2 separate regions of the Homo sapiens genome follow, and region 1 is linked to region 2. The links come from fine-mapping of genetic effects on gene expression. A gene starts in region 2. The other region holds a variant in brackets. All regions are shown on one strand. Distances are from middle to middle. Region 1 has its middle 120 kb from the start of NEDD9. Region 2 holds the start of NEDD9 (neural precursor cell expressed, developmentally down-regulated 9).

Evidence for each region. PIP is the estimated chance that this variant, and not a neighbour inherited with it, causes the effect. A credible set is the group of variants that fine-mapping cannot tell apart.
Region 1: its variant is the best candidate, but not a certain one, in a credible set for the expression of NEDD9 in whole blood (TOPMed, PIP 0.55).

The regions. Positions count from the first base shown.
Region 1 is chr6:11,353,490-11,358,868 of GRCh38, forward strand. It overlaps a transcript of NEDD9 not described here. Among named protein-coding and RNA genes, the nearest start is that of NEDD9, 120 kb to the left of the region's middle. The variant G/A (reference allele first, on the strand shown) is at 2,263.
Region 2 is chr6:11,229,228-11,234,544 of GRCh38, forward strand. It overlaps NEDD9 (neural precursor cell expressed, developmentally down-regulated 9), which reads right to left and starts at 3,441. Exons shown (of 7, transcript NM_006403.4): 1 at 3,277-3,441. The coding sequence starts at 3,288. LOC124901256 (a long non-coding RNA gene) reads right to left here and starts at 1,483. Exons shown (of 2, transcript XR_007059449.1): 1 at 1,212-1,483. RefSeq lists silencers at 2,949-2,998, 3,479-3,528.

The DNA of each region.
Region 1 (5,379 bases), 120 kb after region 2:
GAAGGATCCTCCCCTTGAAGGTTCAGAAAGAGCGTGGCCCTGCCAGCACCTTGATTTCAGACTGCTGGCCTCCAGAACTGTAAGAAAATCTATTTCTGTCATCTGAAGCCACCCAGTTTATGGTACTTTGTAACAGCAGCTCTGGGAAGCTGACACAGTGGCCCCACTACTAGTTAGAGTCCATAGGACTGGAAGTTCTATTAGTTTGTAAAATAAACATTCCTAAAGCCCACCTTTAACGTGGAAAACCTGGTGACTCAAATTAGAGATGTATTACATGATTATATAGAAATTGAAATAGATTGGATGGAATAGGGGCAGGTGATTAAGAAGAAAAGAAAATTGCCTAAAAAGGCCCAAGCCACCACCTTGCTCATGGATAAGAGAAAACAACTTGTAAAAGTTGAAAGGGACTCAAATGAATGTCAGGGCAGGAAGAGTGATGGGGGCCATAATTCAACGGTCTTGGGGGAGCTGGCATTTTCATGCTGATTAATCTAAGATTTCGGCTTGAACAAGGGATAAGGTTTACAGACTAAAAATTAGCCACAAGGTATAACTTTACCTCTGGCTTAACAGAAGACTGAAAGAATAAAGCAAGCAGCTGTGTCAGAACTTGCCAGGCAATGTGAAATACTGTGGTTTGAACAAAGCTGAGTTGGGCTGAGAATGAATTACAGGAAGAAAGGCAGGAAGAAAAAGAAAGAGCTCTGGGGCTATTTATTCTTTGTGTACAGGACGCATTGAAGAAAGTACTGAGTCCCACGTCACCAACCCAGCTGGAAAACGTGGGGGCAACCAAAGCACAGAGAACATGAGTCACCAGCTCCTCACTCTCAGGAGCTCCATATTTGGGAGCCCAGCAAAGGGCTTATCATTTTTCGGATGGAGTCCCATGGGTTCTGGGGCTGCTGCTAGCTTCAGCTAAATGTGGTGCGTGTCTTCAAAATTAGAACTGACAATGGTGACCTTGGAGTCTTGCAACCTAGTGTTTCAGGGGAAAATAGTACCTAGATCTCAGCAGAGTGGGGATAGAGGAAGACATGGAGCTGCATGCTGTTGCCCGTGCATCAGCCAATCAGTTGGTCAGCCCTCTTGAACTGTTTAAGACTACCATGGACATTTGCTGTTTTCACCTACCCAGCATCTGTTCCTCCTCTGCTTCTAGGAACCATCTTTTGACTTTCTTTTGGGAGACTTGCATTTCTCTCTTCTTAGACCCTGGTGCCAGGGGTGGGTGCATGGCCACAGTCTGGACAATCAGAGTATTCCATTGTCCTGGGGGCTGCAACTGGTTTAGGGAAGGGTCATAGCACAAGTCAGCCCAAACAGAGTTCATCCTAGGGACTTTTACAAAAGCTACTGGGGACAAGATGCCGTCAGCTGGGTTGCTGGGAGGATGCGGGTGTGTGGAGCTGCATGTGACCATCTTGCTATGGGTTCAAAGAGGGACCATGTCCTGATGAGGTGGAGCCCCTGTATCCACTTGTGCCTGAAGCTCTTTTCTGCTACCCAAGCTGACATACTCCATCCTTTTGTTTTCTTTTACTGGCAAGCTAAAGAGTTCTGACTAATACACAGATCTCAGTAGGGCACAGTAGGTGCCATAGCAAACATCACACAAATATATGGAAGCCAAAGAGAAAATGCATATGGTATGGTGGGTCTGAAGTCAGATAGAGGAGACATGGACACAGGAATAGTCCAGAGTATTTTAGAATACTTACAAGTATTTCAAAACACATAAAATAAGGGTATTACTCCCTTAAATCCTTCTGGAATGAGGGAATAAAAACAAATATGGTTTTTAAAAGGAAACCATAGTAATTTAGTAAGAACTTCTCAAGGGGCTAGAAAAATTTAAAAAAAAATTAAAAACCAATAGTAATTTGAATTCTTCTTGCAGTAATATGGTATAATAGCAACAACAACAACAATAATAAATCAGCCAAAACGCAAGAACTGTGGGTGTCGTGAAGTCTCCGACCTAGGGTGACGAATTCATCCTGGTTGGTCTGGGACTGTCCCTGTTTTAAAACTGAACGCTCTAATTTCTGGGATGCCTTTAGTCTTGGGCAGACCTGAATGGTCAGTCACATGTTTTCAGGTCATTTTACTTTTCTGAGCCTTGGTTTCTTCATCAATGAATGGGGCGTATGTGGCAGGAGGAGGAGGTGGTGATAGAAACATCCATGCTTTTCAAACCATATTTTTGAGAGCTTTAGGTTTTTTTTTTTAATTATTTTTTTGAGACAGAGTCTC[G/A]CTCTGTCGCCCAGGCTGGAGGGCAGTGGCGCGATCTCCGCTCACTGCAAGCTCCGCCTCCTGTGTTCACACCATTCTCCTGCCTCAGCCTCCCCAGTAGCTGGGACTACAGGCACCCGCCACCACGCCCGGCTAATTTTTTGTATTTTTTAGTAGAGACGGGGTTTCACCGTGTTAGCCAGGATGGTCTCGATCTCCTGACCTCGTGATCTGCCCACCTTGGCCTCCCAAAGTCCTGGGATTGCAGGCGTGAGCCACCATGCCCGGCCGAGAGCTCTAGATTTTTACTAAGAGCTGCAACAGCCACTGCAGAAAGGAAAGTATGAAGCAACCTCCACTCCATTTCTGCTGCAGTTGGAGTTTCTCTTGTATGTGTTTCAATTGAGATCTGCCTAACATTTGTTAGGGGAGTGGGGAAACCTGCTCTCCGAGGGACCACCCTCTAGAATTCCATGATTTTTTCTCTTTGTTATGGGGCAAATGGCTCTTATAGACCACTGGTTCCCACACCTGACGGATCCTAAGAGTCACCTGGGAAGTCTTAAAACTAAATACTGCCTGCCACACCTGGATATTTCTACTCCGTTGGAATTGGGTGGAGCCAGGGATCTGTATTTTTACAAAATCTTTGCAGGTGACATACATATAAATTATTCACAAATGTCGGTATGCTAACTATCATTAATAATATATTACTTTCCACACATCTCGCAAATGGCCAGGACACATCATTGTTTGAGACACCATGTTCCCATACATCTTAAATTTTCCGTGCATCAGGAAAGCTTGTTAAAACACAGATGGCTGGGCACCACCCCCAGGGTTTCTGTTTCAGTAAGGCTGGGCGGGGCTGGAATTTGCATTCCTAAGATACTCCCAGGTGGGCATCTGCCACCTTCAGTAGCATCATTTTAGACCACAGGCTCACTTGAGTGTCTTGACTGGTCTCTTTAATCGTTGGCATCATCATAACCCACCCCCCCCACCCTTTCCCCTCCCCCTGGTATAGCACTCAGTAAATTATTGATGAATAAATGTGTGGATAAATGTTTTATGGCCTGAATGACGTGACCTTTCAACCATCTTTCTAAAGAATATTGTGAATTACACCCCTTCGCATGTAAGAAAAGTTTCTGCTGGTATCTAAGGAATATTGTCTCATGGGACCTCAGCTGAGGACATGGGTGGGGCAACAGGATTTCCTGCTCTCAGCTTTAGAGACTGTGCTGAATACAATGAGGTGACTGAGGCCTTCTGTTCCGGAGCCTCTAGCCAAGCCCACTGGGGTCTCGTTGAGCCACCATTTTTTGGAGCTCCATTTTGCTTCGTTTTTCACTTTTGAAGGCCGGCAGATTTCCTTTTCACCCACCAATTCCTTCCAGGCTTTCTTTAGCATGTTGTCATATTTAAGTCTTTAAATTGATTTGCTGGGACATTACACAAGCGTCTTCTGGCTGCTCTAACCCTTTACTCCTGTGGATAAACTTGTCATTATCCCTCTGGAAGCCCCAAATGACCACTCCAACCCCTGCGCAGGCCCTGATCACACCCGCATCCTTTGGCTTGTTTTTCTTCTCCGTTGGTGCTGCCACAGCGGCAGGCAGCTTGGCACTGTCTTTCCACACATCTTCCGTAGTCTGAGAAATGTTTCTTGGACTACAGAGACCTATTCATGGCCACAACCCAGATCTCAAGGCTAGGCACACCCCAAATAAAGTTAGAAAGGAAGAGAAAGCCACTGACCATTATTAACCTCTAAATAGGGAGCGCCCAGTCCAAGTTCTGCAGGAACATTCAGAGGGTGTTTAACTGGCTTTGCAACTTTTATGTAACTACTTGGAATCAGAAACAACACCCAGAAAATAAATACAAATAATAAAGTAACTTTTAAAAAAGATTCACTCTCTTTTCAGGCGCTTGCTTCGGTGCTGATCATGCAGACCTCGATTAATTAGTATTCAGTCCCAATGACCCTAAGAAAACAAGATGTGTGCACAAACAGGCAGGAAGCAGTCCTTGGAAAGAGAGTTTGGTTCTGACCAGAACCTATACTTATGGAGAAGTAATCTTTTCTACGTCAGTTCTACAAGATCGGCCTAGCTGAATGGCAGTGAGTCTGCGGTGATGAGTGAAAGCAGCCTTCCCTGCCTTTCTTCCACCCAGGCAGTCCCTGTGGGTCCCGCCTCCAGAGGCAGCCATTCAACTAAAGAAGCTATGGGGCCGCATGGTGGCTCACGCCTGTAATCTCAGCACTTTGGGAGGCCAAGGCGGGCGGATCACGAGGTCAGGAGATCGAGATCATCCTGGCCAACATGGTGAAACCCCGTCTCTACTAAAATACAAAAAATTAGCCGGGCGTGCGTGCTGCATGCCTGTAGTCCCAGCTACTCGGGAGGCTGAGGCAGGGGAATCGCTTGAATCCGGAAGGCGGAGGTTGCAGTGAGCTGAGATCACGCCACTGCACTCCCAGCCTGGCGACAGAGCAAGACTCCGTCAAAAAAAAAAAAAAAAAAAAAAAAAAAGCAATGGCTCTGCTGTTACATAACGTCAGCAGCACTGTAGGAATAACACCTTTTCCCTGATGTCAGAAGCTGCAGAAACGCCTGCCAGTGCAGAACGCTCCTCCAGTGCAAACTGGTCTGGAAGGCTTGGCCATGTGTGCCCTGGAAAGTTCTGGAATCTTTTTGGTGTTGGATTAATGGCATTCATGTTTCAGAAAACACCTCCAAACCTAGTTAACAGGAAAACTGTTAGAGAATAAATAAAACGGAGCGTTTAAAAAGTTTTCCACTGAGAAGCAGTTTGAAGAGTCAAGTCACCCTAGAGGAAAGCTGGGTATTTTCTTGTAGGTAGCCTTGGAGGCTTTTGTGAACATGGCGGGTGGTGGTTGACAGGGTGGTTGGAGGAAGGAAGAAAAATGACCTGCGTGCCACTCTTAATAATTGCCTCTTGATTTAGAATCAGGACTTTTCCCCCTGGTTTTACAAAATACATGCAGTCTTCCATGTGAAAGATTATGGGATGAATGGTGGGTGGCGGAGTGTTGCAAGGAGAGACTTAAACAACTCTTACCATTCATAAAGACCGAGGAAATTCAAATACTGAGAGAGGGGCTAA
Region 2 (5,317 bases):
TTAAAGAATGAATTTGTTGCATGGTAGACGAGATAAATAATTTAGAATTTTAATGTAGGCACGTAAGGGCTCAGAAATTTGGCAAAGCCACAAAAGCGTCTCTGCTCAGCCATTAGCAGCCAGGCCAAGGGGCCGCTGAGCCCCCGCCCGGGCTGGGCCTGAGGTGGGCGGGGCCTCGGGCCTGGCAGGCACAAACGGGGTGGGGTCTCGGGGGCTTCTGCTCAAACACAGCTGCGCAGAGACCCTTCCATCACCCTCCTGGGAAACAGCACAACCATACACCTCCAGACCCTCAGGAGGGAGCCTTCACTGGGTAAGCAAACCAAGGCCATCGAGGCAATCACCTAACCCCGCCAGCCCCCGCCCAATTAAGAACATGCTCTGTATATGAAGGGGATTTTGTAGAAAATTCTTAATAAATGAAGCCCCCGTAATTTACTATCACATAACCACAGACTGAATCCCTTCTAAGAGAAATGGAAAATTAAGTACGTATGACAGTGACTGCAACCTTCCTGTGGACAAATAAAAACATACAGGGAAATAAAGACAGATTAGATAAGTGCTAACCAGAAATGTCTGTCCGGAGTAATAGCTTACATTCCACAGTTCTCAGGATTACTGCAAGTACCTTGCTGCCTGGCCTGAAGCTATGTATATTAAGTGCAAAATAAGTGAAGGTTTGTTGTTCCGTAGTTGTGATCCCTGGGGCAGCCAAACCAGATAATCAGGTTAACAACGACAATCTTATAGGGCCTGATTCATAAGTCTTTCAGTAAACATTTTAAGGTTTGTGCTAAATTTACAGTGCATAGAGCAACGTAGTATTTTAGAGATAATTCCTGTCTCTGGGATTTTACCATCTAATAATTATCTGGTTTTACTACCTAAGTGGCTCGAATTAAACAAATAACTGCCAAACATGCACTTCATTTTGCTTTGTAGAGTTACTATCTTAAAAAGAAATTATCCTGCAGGAATACTTGGGATGAAATAGTCTTAAACTTTCTGGGAGAAGAAAACACTGGCCATATTTTAGAGAGGTCAACGATAGCTCTTTCTCTTTCTCTTAATAGTGGTTAAAGTCATGAGTTCTGGAGCCAGATCGCCTTAGTTCTAATCCCAGCTCACCACTTTCTAGCTGTGTGGCATTAGATAAATTACTTAGCCTCTCTGTGTCATTTGAAATTGAGTATAAAAATAATACCCACCTTGTAGAGCTATTGGGAGAGTTGAATATGACAATCTTGTGTTGTCACAGTAAGTCTCAATTAATGTTACTTCATTACTTTTGTGTCTCTCCTCTACTTACAATAACAAAATCCTTTCCTGAAGTAAAGTTGTTCATTATTAACTAGAGAGAAAGAAAACTTTATAAAAAAGGAAAGTGGATTTCTTCAGCTATTGGTTGATTTAATAGTCATCATAGGGCATAAGTCATGTGTTCGGTCGGAGAAGTTAGCTTTTTTGCTGGTGAAGGTGCCTACAAGGTAATAAAAATCATGTATTTACATCATTTGGCAAGGTGTTCAACACCAGTAAGGCCCAGTGGAGAAGCAGGTTTCTCCATGAATGCCAATCGCAGTTTACGCTGTCAGTCACTTTATCAGTTGCCTTTAGATTTTCTTTCCATAAAGAGTAAAGCTAACCACGATGAGATCATTGAATAAAAGTGACTTGAGACTTTGTCGCTTTCGTCACTTTCTAGATTATAGCACTCAATGTTAATTTCAGCCATTTATACTTTCCAATAATAGACATATGAACATACTTTCTCTTTTTTCTGCAAGCCAGTTCTTATTCAACAACAGGGAAAGGAGGAGCAAAAAAGTCACTCCAGGCTGAGTAATATCTGGTCCTATCATTGTTCTAAATAAGGAAATATGGGGTGAGCCACTTTAAGGAAGATAACTTTCCTGCCAAGTAGAGGGATTTGTTTCTGGTTGCATCCTAAAGTCAAATATTAATAGTCTTCAGGATGACCCTTTCCTCTGATCTTCCCTACTGATGAAGATAATAGAAAGCTGATGAAACAGAAATAGCTGATACCTGTGTCTTCAGACAGTGGTAACGTAGGCATTACTATAAAGACTTTTGACATTTAGACTTAAAGCTTTTGAATAAGATTCATAGTTTTTGAACAAAAGCTTTATTACTGAGGCTAGTCAGTGGCTATCAGTTAGACCAAGTATTTACAACCTTACATCAAAAAAGGATGGACCAGAAAAATTTAGAAAAAAAGCGAAGTAGCTTCCAGCTAGTGTACAGTTAATATAAATTGTCAATCCACAAGCCTAGCACCCTTGCCCAAATCCATCTTAATAATAACACTTTTGTTTAAAATAGCATAAAATAAAATAGTAGCACTAGCACTCATGTCTATTCATCATTCAAGAAAAATTCATGTCCAATTCATTGCAGTCTGCTTTCTTTGTGTCCCCTGGAAGCTGCTTGCCTCCTTAGATGGGAGTGACTTAAAAGAAAAAGGGGAGGGGGGAATATACGGAGCAAGTCAAAAATCCTTTTGGCAAGAAAAATCCACAAACAATGGTGTAAAATGCATTGGAAAATAATGCTGCTGAAGTACTATGACTATGACACTCTGTAAGCTTTCAGGCACAATGAGCCAGCCTGAGCCTTCGCACTCTCACCCCATTCAAACTCCAATAAAAATGTTTTCAAGAAATGGCTCATACTTATTTATTCCTACATCCAATATAACATAAGGATGTCAAAATTTTCCATCCTCAGCTGTGTAATCTGGGCTTTTAATTTCTCCCACCAAAAGTGCATATGGCATACTCCTTCCGAGACCAAACGATTAAAGCAAAGTCTGGAAAACTTTGCACTAAGAGCCAGTCTGAGACAGACTATGCAGTCCTCATTCCTCTCATTACAGTTCCCCAGGGCAGTGGAAGCCAGGCCTGGGGAAGCCAAGGAGACTTGAGCCAATGCCTGCCGCGATTCAAGTCAGACACCCTCTGATCTCCAGTGGCTGCTGTGAAGCGGCTCCAAGTCTTAACTTCTCACCGAGGTATTTCCCCGGCAACTTTCAGAGCAGATGGACTCGGGTGTACTGTGAACCCCTGGAGTGGGTCTCAAAGACCGGGTCTCTGCTTGCTTGTCTGCTTGCATGTCAACCTCAGTGACCGAGACTCATCTTAGAACTCTCCGGGACACACAAGGGACTGACAGTAAGGAACACGCATACACAAGCACACACCCGCAGGCACAGCTTTCAGCTTGCAAGGTAACCTGTAAAAGGCACTCTCTTACCTTATACTTCATTTCGGCAGCGGTGGGTTGAGCCGTTTTCCTACACTAGTTAAGACAGCATTAAGCACTGCGGTGCCCGCCCCTCCATTGAGTGCAGCGCTAGATGAAAGCGAGAAGGTCCCGGGCAGAGCCGCTTGTCAGTCGCAGCGCCTCCCTCAAGTCTCTGAGCTCACTGTTGTGACTGAGGCAGGCTGATCGCGGACCTCATTTGCATGCCGCCCCGCCATTGGCTAGTGGGACAAGGTAATGCTCAGGCCCTGCCCACCCCTAATTCTGAAAAACTGACAAAGAACTTGTAATGTGATCGCTTCTTTTTGCTTTATCAGACGGTGGAAAATAAAACAGAAAGTGGGGAACCGTCCTGAACCTTACTCTGTCCTCCCGCCCCCGCCAAAAAAGAAGACAGAAAGAGAAAGAACAGGAAAAGGAGATACATTCTTTTTAAGATTAACCCAAATTTTAAAGAAACTGAATTCACAAAAGCAGTCTGACAGTCGCGCTTCCTGTGACCTAGCAACTCCTTCATAAACCCATTTCGTTTCAAAGCCATTCACCTCACAATCTCTACATGAAACGAACTCCGGGAACAAAAGGTTTTCTGTCTCCGGGCCCCTTTTTACTAACCACCCCTGCTGATACCTCTCTCTCTCTCTGTCCCTTTTTCTTTCCCCCTCCTCCCGCCTACTTTTTGTGTGTGTGTGACTGTTTGCTTTTTTTGTTCTTTTCAACGTTCAAAGTACTTTGCGATGTCAGTCTGCAAGGAGCTGGAAGACAATTCTCCCTTAGTGAAAAGGAACCCTCTAGCACACGCACCAGCGTTTTCCTGGACAGCTTCTCACCAGGGCCTCAGAGTTGCGGGTCACACATATTGAGCGACCTTCAGTGGCTTTGCTGAGGATAAAGGTTAGATGTGACCTCTCGGATGGGGTTGGCCAGTGCACGCCCTATACATCATCACCGTCCACTGAGTTCTGTGTTCTTTGACGGCTGGCATTTCTAGCTCCAGCTTTGAACACTGCAGTGTTTTTCCTTCTGACCTCTGTCCTGAGGATGACCCATTAACCCACCAACACTTATTATCCAGGAGAACGAAAATGCCCACTGTTTGATGAGCCTGGTTAAAAAGACCAGTCTCTCTCCAGCGAAGCACAGAACATAATTTCTATAAAGGTTCCATTTTAGGATTTCTATAGAGAAAGAGAATCACCCAGAAAACAGAAATGGTCACCTTCTGCAACTCTTCTCACGGACAGAGCAGTGAGGCGAAAAATTCCTTTTTCCCGGGCAAGACTGAGACTCGGTGAATCCAGACAATAGCTGTCCCTGAGTGGGATGCACTCCAACCAGACTACATGACTTGGATGGAAAAATCAGCCCTTATTTTTTTTTTTCCTGACCAAGTTGGATCAGAATCTGATTCCCTTCGCGTCTAACACACAAATTCCCAATGGATGAAAACTCTACTTTTATGATCTAAGCAAAAGGAATGAGAGAACAGCTGTCCTACAAAAGTGGTTTCCAGATACAGGGTTGGCAGGTTAGTTTGCAGTTCAGTGTGGCACTGATTCCAGGGACATGACCCCCCAGGCCATCCTAATGAGGTTGACATACCTGTTCCAGCCTGTATTAGGCCTTGCTTCTCCTCATTTGTCCTTAGAGCAAAAATAAGCCTGAGTGATTGTGCAAGGCCTTTCTGAACACAAATTAAGCACGCAGCATATTGCATTGTAACGATCTCCTTAAGAATCCTGCAGACTGACCGGAGAGTCGTTAGTTTGCAGGAAATTGTTTTTGGTGTCTACCTGGATAAAGGAGGACAATGATTCAAAGCCCTTCCCATCTGTAAGATGAGTCTTGCGGCCTCCAAGAGATCTAGATAACATTCCTTTGGCTTCCTAAGTGGTCAAGCTGAATCCTTTTTCTGTTTTGTTTGATGAATATCATTGAGTAAGTGAGTGCTGTCCCATCCTATTTTAATGTTTTCAAACAGTTTCCTAAAGTTTGTGCTGGGGTTTTTTTGTAATTTCATTCTCTAGCTAGT